2 separate regions of the Homo sapiens genome follow, and region 2 is linked to region 1. Evidence: fine-mapped expression QTL. A gene starts in region 1. The other region holds a variant in brackets. All regions are shown on one strand. Distances are between the middles of the regions.

Region 1 (5,260 bases):
GGGAGTGTAGGTGTAGCATCCCAGAGCCATAAAAGGTGGGAAGGACAGCACCTACTGATGAGGTTACAGGACAGCAAGGGGACAGAGATGACACCCAGGTCTGGCCATGGAAGCAGGTGGACAGTGAAGCTGTCTCTTCAATGGGAGGAGGCTCAGGTGTGTGTGTGACAGGTGGGACCTGTGGAGGGCCATTCTGGACATGGTGAGCTGGAAGGTCTCAGGAAGACAATCCAGGAGACAACAAGGGTCAGAAGTGCAGTCTGGGGCTGGGTGTGGTGGCTCACACCTGTAATCCCAGCACTTTGGGAGGCTGAGGCGGGTGGATCACCTGAGGTCAGGAGTTCAAGACTAGCCCAGCCAACATGGTGAAACACTGTCTCTACTAAAAATACAAAAATTAGCCAGGTGTGGTGGTGCACGCCTGTAATCCCAACTAACTGAGAGGCTGAGGCAAGAGAATCGCTTGAACCTGGAAGGCAGAAGTTGCAGTCGGCCGAGACTGCACCACTGCACTCCAGTCTGGGCAATAGAATGAGACTCTGCCTCAAAAAAAAAAAAAAATGCAGTCTAGGTGGAACCAAGGGACTAGAACCTTTCCAGGAAGCCTGGGCAGGTGGGACAAGCAACAAGAGGGCCAGGACAGAGACAGCCCTGAGGATCACACCCCTAGTAAAGGGGTGGGCGGGGGTGGGCAGTGGAAGGCAAGGCTGGCGGGTTCTAAGGAGCAGCCAGAGAGGGAGGAAGCTGCCCAGGAAGGAGGATGTAGGGTGAAGGGAGTTTCAGGGAGTGGACCAGGTCAGATGAGGATTGAAATGTTACCCTCAGGTGTCAGCAATGAGCAGGTGACCTCAGTGACCTTGTCCAGAGCCACTGCAGGGTCATGGCCGTTAGGCAGCCAGACATAGTGGGTTGAAGAGGGAGTGGAAGGTAAGGGATTGAGCCAGTGGGCGCCACAAGAGAGCCTGATACAGGGCACATGTGTTTAGAGATGATGGACATGTTTGAATGCTGGAGGAGTGGGAGAGACTGAAGATGCAGAAACAAGAAAGCCGTTTCCTCACGGGGTGCGAAGCAAGGGATCCTCAGCTCAGAGGTCCTCGTTCACCCAGCAAGTGACTTCTGAGTCAGGGCCTGTGCTGGGGCAGGGAGCTGTAGCCCAGAACTCTTCCTGAAGGTCCAGATCCACTGGCCTGAGTCACCACTCTCCTTGTCCAACTCATAGAACCCCTTGGTCACCTCTGTCAAAACAGTCACTACCCATCAACCTGCTCCTCTTTTCCTGTCCCCACCTCAGAGATGGCTCCACTGTCCTCCAGACTAGAGCTCTGGGTCTCATGCTGGACAACCCCTTGTCCCATAGCCCATCAATCCCCACTTTCTGTTCTCTCTGCCTCCTGAATCTCCTTATTTATTTTTCTTTCTTTCTTTTTTTTTTTTTTTTTTTTTGAGATAAGGTCTCACTCTTGTGCAGGTTGGAGTGCAGTGGCACCATCTTGGCTCACTGCAGCCTCGACTTCCCGGGCTCAAGTGATCCTCCTGCTTCAGCCTCCTCAGTAGCTTGGACCATAGGCATGCACCACCACACCTGGCTAATTTTTCTTTTTTTTTTTTTTATTTTGAGTCTCACTCTGTGGCCCAGGCTGGGGTGCAGTGGCGCGATCTCAGCTCACTGCAACCTCCCCGTCCTGGGTTCAAGCAATTTTCTGCCTTAGCCTCCCGAGTAGCTGGGATTACAGGTGCCCACCACCAAGCCTGTCTAATTTTTTGCATTTTTAGTAAAGACAGGGTTTCACCATCTTGGCCAGGCTGGTCTTGAACTCCTGACCTCGTGATCCACCCGCCTCGGCCTCCCAAAGTGCTGGGACTACAGGAGTGAGTCACCGCGCCTGGCCACACCTGGCTAATTTTTTGTAGAGATGAGGCTGTCACTATGTTGCCCAGGCTGGTCTTGAACTCCTTGGCTCAAGTGATCTTCCCGCCTCAACTTTCCAAAGTGCTGGGATTACAGACACGAGCCACAGCACCAAGCCTTGCCTCCTGAATCTCTATCTTATCCCCTCGGCCTCTTCCCTGATCCAGGCTCCACTCTCTCCTACCTGAATCCCTGCCAGAGCCACCTCCTGGGCTACTGGCTTCCAGTCTCATTCCTCCAGTTCTGGACCAACTATGACCTTGTCCTCCACTACTCTCAACCCTTCCATGGCTCTCCACTACCCCCTCACCCTCAGGACAAAGTCCAAGCTCCTCAGCCTGGCCTCTGCTCATCTCTTCGGCCTCCTCCAGCCTTACAGTTCCCCTGCTGGCCATACAGACTTGACTGGCCTTCCGCTTAGGCACCTGCACGCAGTACTGCTCCTGCATGCCTCCCTGTCTTTGGTCACGCTGAAACACCCTCCCCACACCCATTTTGCCTGGCATCTCCACTTTGCCTGGCACCTTCTGCTCCTCCAAGATCCAGCTCCAATGGCCCCTCCCCTGGAAACCCTTTCCCGACCACGCCAAACTCAAAAAAGTCTCTCCTGGGCTCCCACCGTCTCCGCACACCCATGCCCATCAACGTCCATCCTCCCATCTGACCCGGGCTCCTTGAGGGCACGGCCCAGGCCTGACTCATCTTGGTCACCAGCATCGCCCAGCACGAGGCTTGGCACACCAGAAGCCTCAGGAAATGTTTGTCTAACTAATAGGTGGGAGAGTGTGTGAGTGAGTGGCTAGACGAGGGAATCCGTGAGTGAGAGAATTGAGGGCAGGAAGGGCAGAACGGATGAAGGAACAGGAAGGCAGGAGCAGACGAGAATCAGGCTTAGGGTGGGAGGAACGGATGGATGAATAACAGATCCAGTATCCCGGTCTCAGTTTCTCCAAGAAAGCAAGATGGGTTCGCCGGGACTGAGCTCCTCCCCCCTCCGCCTCAAGCCTCACTAAGCCTCACGGTTTTCCACCCGAGCTATGTGCAGAATCCTAATACTAGGCGTGCTGGAAAGGGCTTACCCGGCCAGACTCGGAGAACCCGTTCCCTCGCGAGCCCGCTCGGGCCTCTGCGGAGTGGACCAGGATTCCGATCCCTCAGGTTCCGGGTCTATTGGCCGACTGACTGGGCCTGGCAGAGACTGGCGTCTCCGAAAGCCTATCGCTGCCCGAGTTGGGCTGTGGGCCCCGCCTACCAGGCAAAGGGTCCTGAGTGGCCCAGGGAGGTAGAAGGCCGAGTGTCCATTGGCTGGAAGATAGTGACTGACGTCATGGATAGCTTTCGCCGCCAGACTCCAAAGAAGCGCCTCGCGTGTCGGACCCGCCTCCGGAGGGACTGAGTCGGGGTGGGAGCCCTGGGCGTAGACGGTCGCAGAATGGTCGTGAATGGAGTTTCTGGCCCCACATACCTAGGCTGTTTGCTGACCCGATCCTTGGGTCTTGAGGAAGGTTGGGGATTTGAGAGTTCAGACTCCTTGGTTCTGAAGGAGGAGAAGTCTGGGACCCGAGGAAGGAGGGACTAGGGGCCCGGACTCCTGGGTCAGAGGGAGGAGGGGGCTGGAAACCTGAAGGTTTGGTGTCTAGGAGCGGGAACTCCGGGATCTTGAGTCACTCGCCCGCCCAGGGATGACAGGTTTGGGGTTCAGGATTTTATGAGGCTATTTATGGGAAGGGAGCCAGGCCTTACCCCCAGGCAAGTGTTCTGGGTAATGAGGCGGAGCTTGTAATGGAGAGGGAGAAGGAAGAGGCTCAGGGGAAGCTCTGGCCTGGATATGCCCTTTCCTCATCCCGAAAAGGGAAGTCAGAGGCAGGTGCTGTCTGCAAAAGGAACCCAGAGCTAGAGGAGACTGGAGACTCACGTGAGACTAAGAGAAAAATAGAGATACCAAAGGGGAGATGGCAAAAATAAAACAGTAATAATAACAGAGCTCTCTTGTACTGAGTTTACTGTGGCCTGGTTCTGTGCTGAGCATTTTACATAATTATCTCATGTCTTCCTCGCCACAGCTCTGAGAGATTGGATTATTATTAGTAGTATTATCCCCAGTTTACAAGTGAGAAAATTGAGGCCTAGTGAGGGAGAATCCAGATACAGATGTAAAGATACAAGAGAGACACAAAACATAGATGGAGATAAACAAAGAGTTACAGGCCCAGAGAGAAAAAAGAAAACGCAGGCAACAAACAAAAGGAGAGGGGCTGAGAGCTGGGACTCCTGGGGCTGGGGAACTGGAGAGCTGGGGACCCGGACTCCTGGGTCCTGGGGAAAGCAGGTCCAAGGATGGGGTCTCCCAGATATTTTCTCCCGTGAATCCACGATACTAAGCTTGTCCAACCCTTCTGACTGTGGGCGTGAGCCTGGTTGGGGTCGAAAATAGTGATTAGGAGGTGCACTTGCATCATGAGCCTATTAGGAGGTGATAAGAACATGATTCATGGCGGTCTCCTTCGCCTGGAAGGGACCTTTCCCCCATGGCCTCTGTTCTTTGATCTGGACAGATCTGGCCTTCTCTGTCCCTCCCCATCACTGCATCTCGGTCACTCAGAACTGTCACTGAGGCCCATTGTGGAGGCAGTGGGCCACCTTGGGGCAGCAACAGCTTTCCTGGTGGGGGTCATCTCTCTGGGTCTCTCTGCTTTCCCCCAGACCCTGAACCGACCAGAGGTCCTGGCACATTGCAGGGGCTCAGGAAATGCTCATGGAATGAATGGACAGAGATCCCCGTCTCTGGGCAGCTCTTCCTCTGTCCCAATCCAGCCATCGTTTTTCTGTGTCACCATCACGTCTCTTACCCTCTCCCTGGCCTCACTGGTCCCCTCCCACCTTCCCTTTCAATCTCCTGTTTCTCCTTGAGCCACTGGGCCCACTATCCCCATTAGGGAGAAACCAAGGCTCATCTTGGAAGGATCTCTCCCAGGGGTCACCTATGGGATGTTATGTAAGGGAGTGGCCTCACAGCTGAGAGAAGGGTTCTCAAGATTCCAATTATAGACACACTCCCAGCACCTCAGAATCAGAAATGCAAGATCACACCAAACACGTGCCATCACAATTTGTGTTAGATTTGATCTTGCATTTGCACCCACACAAAGAATCACACACATGCAGCAATATAATCACCTACAAGCACAAACACAAATATAGGCACACAACCACAGAATCGCCCGTGATCACAGCACACAAGAAATATCCTATTCCACATGCAAAACAGACACCCCAGCGATGCAGTTACATGGCCAGTCACTGAGAGGCCACTCATCCAGCTCCTACCAGGAGGACCATGAGCAAAGA
Region 2 (5,485 bases), 130 kb before region 1:
AGACCAGCCTGACCAACATGGTGAAATGCCGTCTCTACTAAAAATACAAAAAAATTAGCCGGGCATGGTGGTGCGTGCCTGTAATCCCAGCTACTCAGGAGGCTGAGGCAGGAGAATTGCTTGAACCTGGGAGGCAGAGGTTGCAGTGAGCCAAGATCACACCACTGCACCCTAGCCTGGGTGACAGAGCGAGACTCCATCTCAAAAAAATAAAATAAAATAAGATTGTTTATTTGGGCAGCTCCCCTATGCAGAGCTGAGGTCAAATAATTATAAATATTTTAAGGTTAATTCACAGACCACAAGATAAGCCAAAACCATTAACCATTTATACTATTTCACTGAGGGGAAACTGAGCCACATGGCAATAAATACAGTCACTATATCAAGGTCACACAGACCGTAACTGGAAGATCAGTTACAGGAGATTTGTCTTCAGCCACAGTCTTAACCTCTCCTCTACTCCAGGGGCCTTATTTGGCATCTGTGGACCCCAATACCAGAGTTGGTTCAGTTCCTTTCTTCTTAGGCATCTGCAGCCCAGAGGGGAGATCCTGGTCTGGGGAGTGAGATCAAATGGAGAATTAACCAAGTTTTATTCTGGAACTTATTCAACAATTAGAGTCAGTGTCAGAAATGTTCAGGCCTGGGTCAGGTGTGGTGGCTCACACCTGTAATCCCAGCACTTTGGGATGCCAAGGTGGGCGGATCACTTGAGGTCAGGAGTTCAAGACCAGCCTGGCCAACATGGTGAAACCCCATCTCTACTAAAAATACAAAAAAAATTAGTCGGGCATGGTGGTGCGTGCCTCTAATCCCAGCTACTTGGGATGCTGAGGTGGTAGAATCGCTTGAACCCAGGAGGCAGAGGTTGCAGTGAGCCAAGATCATGTCACTGTGCTCCAGCCTGGGAGACAGAGTGAGACTCTATCTCAAAAAAAAAAAAAAAAAATGTTCAGGCCTATCCCCTCAGACCCACACCTCTGCTCCCTGGACTTGAAATCCTGTGTTTCCTGATGTGTTGGTGTCACTCCCACAGGAGGATAAAGGAAAGGACTTTGCTTTCTCTCCTCACTCACACCCTGCACCAGCCAGGGCCCAATATGAAACACACACTCAGTAGTTCTCTCACGAATGAATGAATGATTGAATGATCCATAACCTCTTTAGAGACTGGATCTGGTTGCAGAATCCTGGGAGGTTCTTGCCATACCTGCTCCCCATCCCTCCAGAGACTGAGACCCATGTTCCATCCCCTGACCATCTACCCCTAAAGCCACCCCAAGTACCATATTTCATGTGACTCTGGGGCTGCTCGGCTGTGGGAAGGTTTTCAGGGCTCCCTGGTCTTGGTTCTGGGACACCAGAGGCTCCTGGTTGCTGGGGTCTCTAAGGTCACTTAGCCCCCACTGCTCACTGTCATGGGCATCTCTGACTCTCTCTGCTCCTCCATGTCCTCATTTTCCTCTCCTTTTATCCCAGCTGAACTGCACAGTTTCCTCCACCCTTAGGCCTTTCCCAGACACTCCGTCTAACAAGGTTGACTGTCCTGTTCCCTTCCCGCTCACACTGTGGCCAGGCCCACCTCCCAGGCAATAGGAAAGGCACAGAAATGAGCCCAGAGCAGCCACCCCTGCCAGGTCCATCATAAGCCACTGTCCCCACGTCCCTCAGTGAGGCTGACATGTGGAACAGGCCAGGGGACAGGGACGAGCGACTCCTCCATACACTCTCTATACTGACTCACCAGGGGATCAGAGGCAGAAGGACAGGTCTGCAGTCCCCAAAGCCCATGGGCTCATTTCACCCATTTGACTCCTAACTCCATCCCTGTTCTGCTGTGGGCTCACATCCTCTAGTGGTTCCTGGGACCTTCCCCAGGTAGAGCTAGCCAGGCAGGTGCTGTCTGATGGGTTTGCTGCCCATTCCACCTACACCTGTGTCCTCATGATGACACCATTGTCATAAGGTGGGATCTCTCAGACAGGGAGATGCATTAGCCACTGGTGTCTCACTTAGACTCTGCCCAATTTGGATGAATTTGGTCAAACTCTAGTTGTGTTTCCTGAGGTTGAGAGAAAAGGAAGAAAGCATTTCACATGACTGTTTTGGGTTCCTCTTTTTACCTGAATTTCCACAGGAATTTGTAACATAGAACTCTTTCTAAATTTACTAACATAACATACATCACTTCTCCTCATATGGCATCGTTTCTCTCTTAATGCAATTGAGAACTCTCAGATATCCTTTCTGACAAGTTCTGTCTTCCTAACAGGACCCATGAGTCCCTTCTACCCAGGGAGTCACTGATTTCAAACTGACTTCAGCATCTTTCTTTGATCATAACATGATCCTACTGGACTTCAGAGCTTGGTTTAAGAGTTTATCACGCTCTCTAGAGAATATTCCTCTTATTAATTGGTGTTAGATCCAGAGTATTAATAACAATTTTCACAAATGGAATAATTTAACTTCTCAAATTTATATCCCAGATCTACCAAACACACAC[G/A]GTCCATGAGGGTCAGGCTTTCAGCAAGTTCATGCTCCTTCCGTTCCACTAGCTGGTTATTCTGCATTTGCAAAAAACCCACATATTTCAGAAAAGATCCACAGTGTCATCATCTGCTCTTTTCAGGGGGAAAAGGGACATTAAAGACCAAAGACAAGGAACGTAGATATGCTGTTAAATCCAGGCAGCCCCTGCCTGTCACCCTCACTCTTTTCTAGATCATTCCTTGGACTCTGCTCTATCTTTAGGGGGTCACTGGCTCAAGTCAGTCATCATCAAACACCTGGGAAAAACTGCCCCACCTTGTGGTTCTGCTGCCTGACGACTGAGCTACCTTCAGGCTTGCCCCTGGTGTCCCCTGTTATTTCTGCTGAAACATACAGTCCCAGGCCAGGCTGCTCAGTATCCTCAGGGTTTAAGGACAATAGGAAGTCCCATCATCACCCATCTCTAGGATGTCCTCAGACAGGGAAGCTGCAGAGAAAACACACCTAGTGGGGCAAAGTAGGACTGTGAAGCTGGAAGGGACCCAGCACCTGTATGTTCCAGGTGAGGACCCACAGGTGGGTCAGGCAGGCATCAGCCAGTCAGGGAAGGACCAGAAGTGCCTGGGGCTGTGACTCCCAGTCCTCGGTCTGTCCACGACCCAACACTGCTGCTCAGTTCACACTTGAGAAAGTCTGTGCTTCTCTCACACAGAGCAGGCGGCCTCACGGTCTCTGAGCCCTCAGATCATTGCACATCTGTCTTGTGAAACACACACTTGCCATGGGCTTTTAGGGACTTGGGTTGGCTGAGAGGTGGGGAGATGCCAACTCTGATTGAAAAATGCCCGGACGGAATCCCAGCACTTTGGGAGGCCGAGGCGGGCAGATCACGAGGTCAGGAGGTCGAGACCATCCTGGCTAACAGTGACCATCCTGGCTAAAATACAAAAAACTAGCCGGGCATGGTGGCATGCACCTGTAGTCCCAGCTACTCAGGAGGCTGAGGCAGGAGAATCGCTTGAACCCGGGAGGAAGAGGTTGCAGTGAGCCAAGATCGTGCCACTGCACCCCAGCCTCAGCAACAAAGCGAGACTCTGTCTCAAAAAAAAAAAGAAAGAAAGAAAAATGCCCAGCCAGGCACGGTGGCTCAGGCCTGTAATCCCAGCACTTTGAGAGGCCGAATCGGGCGGATTGCCAGAGCTCAGGAGTTTGAGACCAGCCTGGGCAACACGGTGAAACCCCGTCAGGCATGGTGGCATGTGCCTGTAATCCCAGCTACTCAGGAAGCTGAGGCAGGAGAATTGCTTGAATCCAGGAGGTGGAGGTTGCAGTGAGCCGAGATCGTGCCATTGCACTCCAGCCTGGGTGACAGAGCGAGGCTCCATCTCCAAAAAAAATAAATAAATAAGAAAAGAAAAATGCCTGTGGAGGAATCAAAGGTGCCACACAGGGCAATCTTCTCTCTGTTTTCTGCATAGCGGAGCTGCCCAAGCCCTCCATCTCCAGCAACAACTCCAACCCTGTGGAGGACAAGGATGCTGTGGCCTTCACCTGTGAACCTGAGACTCAGGACACAACCTACCTGTGGTGGATAAACAATCAGAGCCTCCCGGTCAGTCCCAGGCTGCAGCTGTCCAATGGCAACAGGACCCTCACTCTACTCAGTGTCACAAGGAATGACACAGGACCCTATGAGTGTGAAATACAGAACCCAGTGAGTGCGAACCGCAGTGACCCAGTCACCTTGAATGTCACCTGTGAGTATCTTCTGTTCCTCTGTGGCCCAGGCTGCCAGCCCAAATCCACGCAGCCAGAGGCCAGGCCTCTCAGTCCCTCTCAGGTCTAAGGACGCAGACCCTTAACCCTGGACACCCAGGCTGGCCATGACTTCCTTTCCCCAGGCAAACCTGGGCAGCCCCAGCCTGAACCAAGAATAGGAGGGGAGAGGCTGCTCCTGTCCTGGGAGGCTCAGGGTCCACAGCCTGTGATGGGAGAAACAGGTGAATGTCTCAGACCCAGACTCAGTGGACACAATGGAGGTTTGGTTAGGACTTCAGGGTTGTGACTTAGTAGAGAGGAACACTGTGGCCCTTCTCCAGACCAGCAGCTTCCCCTTCCCTCTGATGACATCACCTGTGGCTTTATTCTCTTTGCTCCAGATGGCCCGGACACCCCCACCATTTCCCCTTCAGACACCTATTACCGTCCAGGGGCAAACCTCAGCCTCTCCTGCTATGCAGCCTCTAACCCACCTGCACAGTACTCCTGGCTTATCAATGGAACATTCCAGCAAAGCACACAAGAGCTCTTTATCCCTAACATCACTGTGAATAATAGTGGATCCTATACCTGCCACGCCAATAACTCAGTCACTGGCTGCAACAGGACCACAGTCAAGACGATCATAGTCACTGGTAAGTAATTCCTGGAGCATCAACACTAAGATCTGGGGTACAAGCTTTCTGGTTTTCAAATAGGAGCAGAGAAGAAATTTTCTTTTGCAGCCTGTATCCAACAGGCACAAACAAGTCCAAATTCTCCCCTGAACCCTCTCAATTCATCTGTGCAGACTCTCTTCCCTTTGTTTTTCTGATTTCTCACAGCTGACCTTAGGTCCAGCCTGGAATGTGGGGAGGGGGTTCTCTCAGCCCCAGAAAGCCCCGTGTAGCAGGAGGGGCTTCACAGAGGGGGAAGCAGAAAGGGTCCTCAAGGTCAATTTGCTTCTGTCACTAACATGTCCCTTTCTGTAACTTCTTGGCCTTCTTTTACCTATTCCATGAGATATAAGGAATATGTGAGGTTTTAAAACAGACTCACAATAGTTTTCCCTAAATGAGAGAAGGAAATGCCCTTCATCAGGGATGAGCAGCTCAGACTCTGCTCCCTGCTCTACTCCCGGCTTGCCCGGTGATTGGCTCTGCCCTGACCCCATGTGGGGTAGGACGCAGGTGTGTGCAGAAGGTGTCCAGGTGGCCTGTCATGAATCCAG

What was found.
Region 2: its variant is fine-mapped to the expression of LIPE-AS1 in whole blood (TOPMed, PIP 0.99).

What each region holds. Positions count from the first base shown.
Region 1 is chr19:42,394,956-42,400,215 of GRCh38, reverse strand. It overlaps LIPE-AS1 (LIPE antisense RNA 1), which reads right to left and starts at 3,068. Exons shown (of 3, transcript NR_073180.1): 1 at 2,992-3,068. It overlaps LOC101930071 (a long non-coding RNA gene), which reads right to left and starts at 3,088. Exons shown (of 2, transcript NR_126041.1): 1 at 2,992-3,088. RefSeq lists enhancers at 2,000-2,683, 2,684-3,367, 3,222-3,381, 3,402-3,541.
Region 2 is chr19:42,520,692-42,526,176 of GRCh38, reverse strand. CEACAM1 (CEA cell adhesion molecule 1) reads left to right here. Exons shown (of 9, transcript NM_001712.5): 3 at 3,975-4,253; 4 at 4,656-4,910. All of the region lies in intron 2 of LIPE-AS1 (LIPE antisense RNA 1), which reads right to left. It overlaps LOC105372407 (a long non-coding RNA gene), which reads right to left and starts at 3,419. Exons shown (of 2, transcript XR_935974.3): 1 at 2,812-3,419; 2 at 308-559. The variant G/A (reference allele first, on the strand shown) is at 2,510.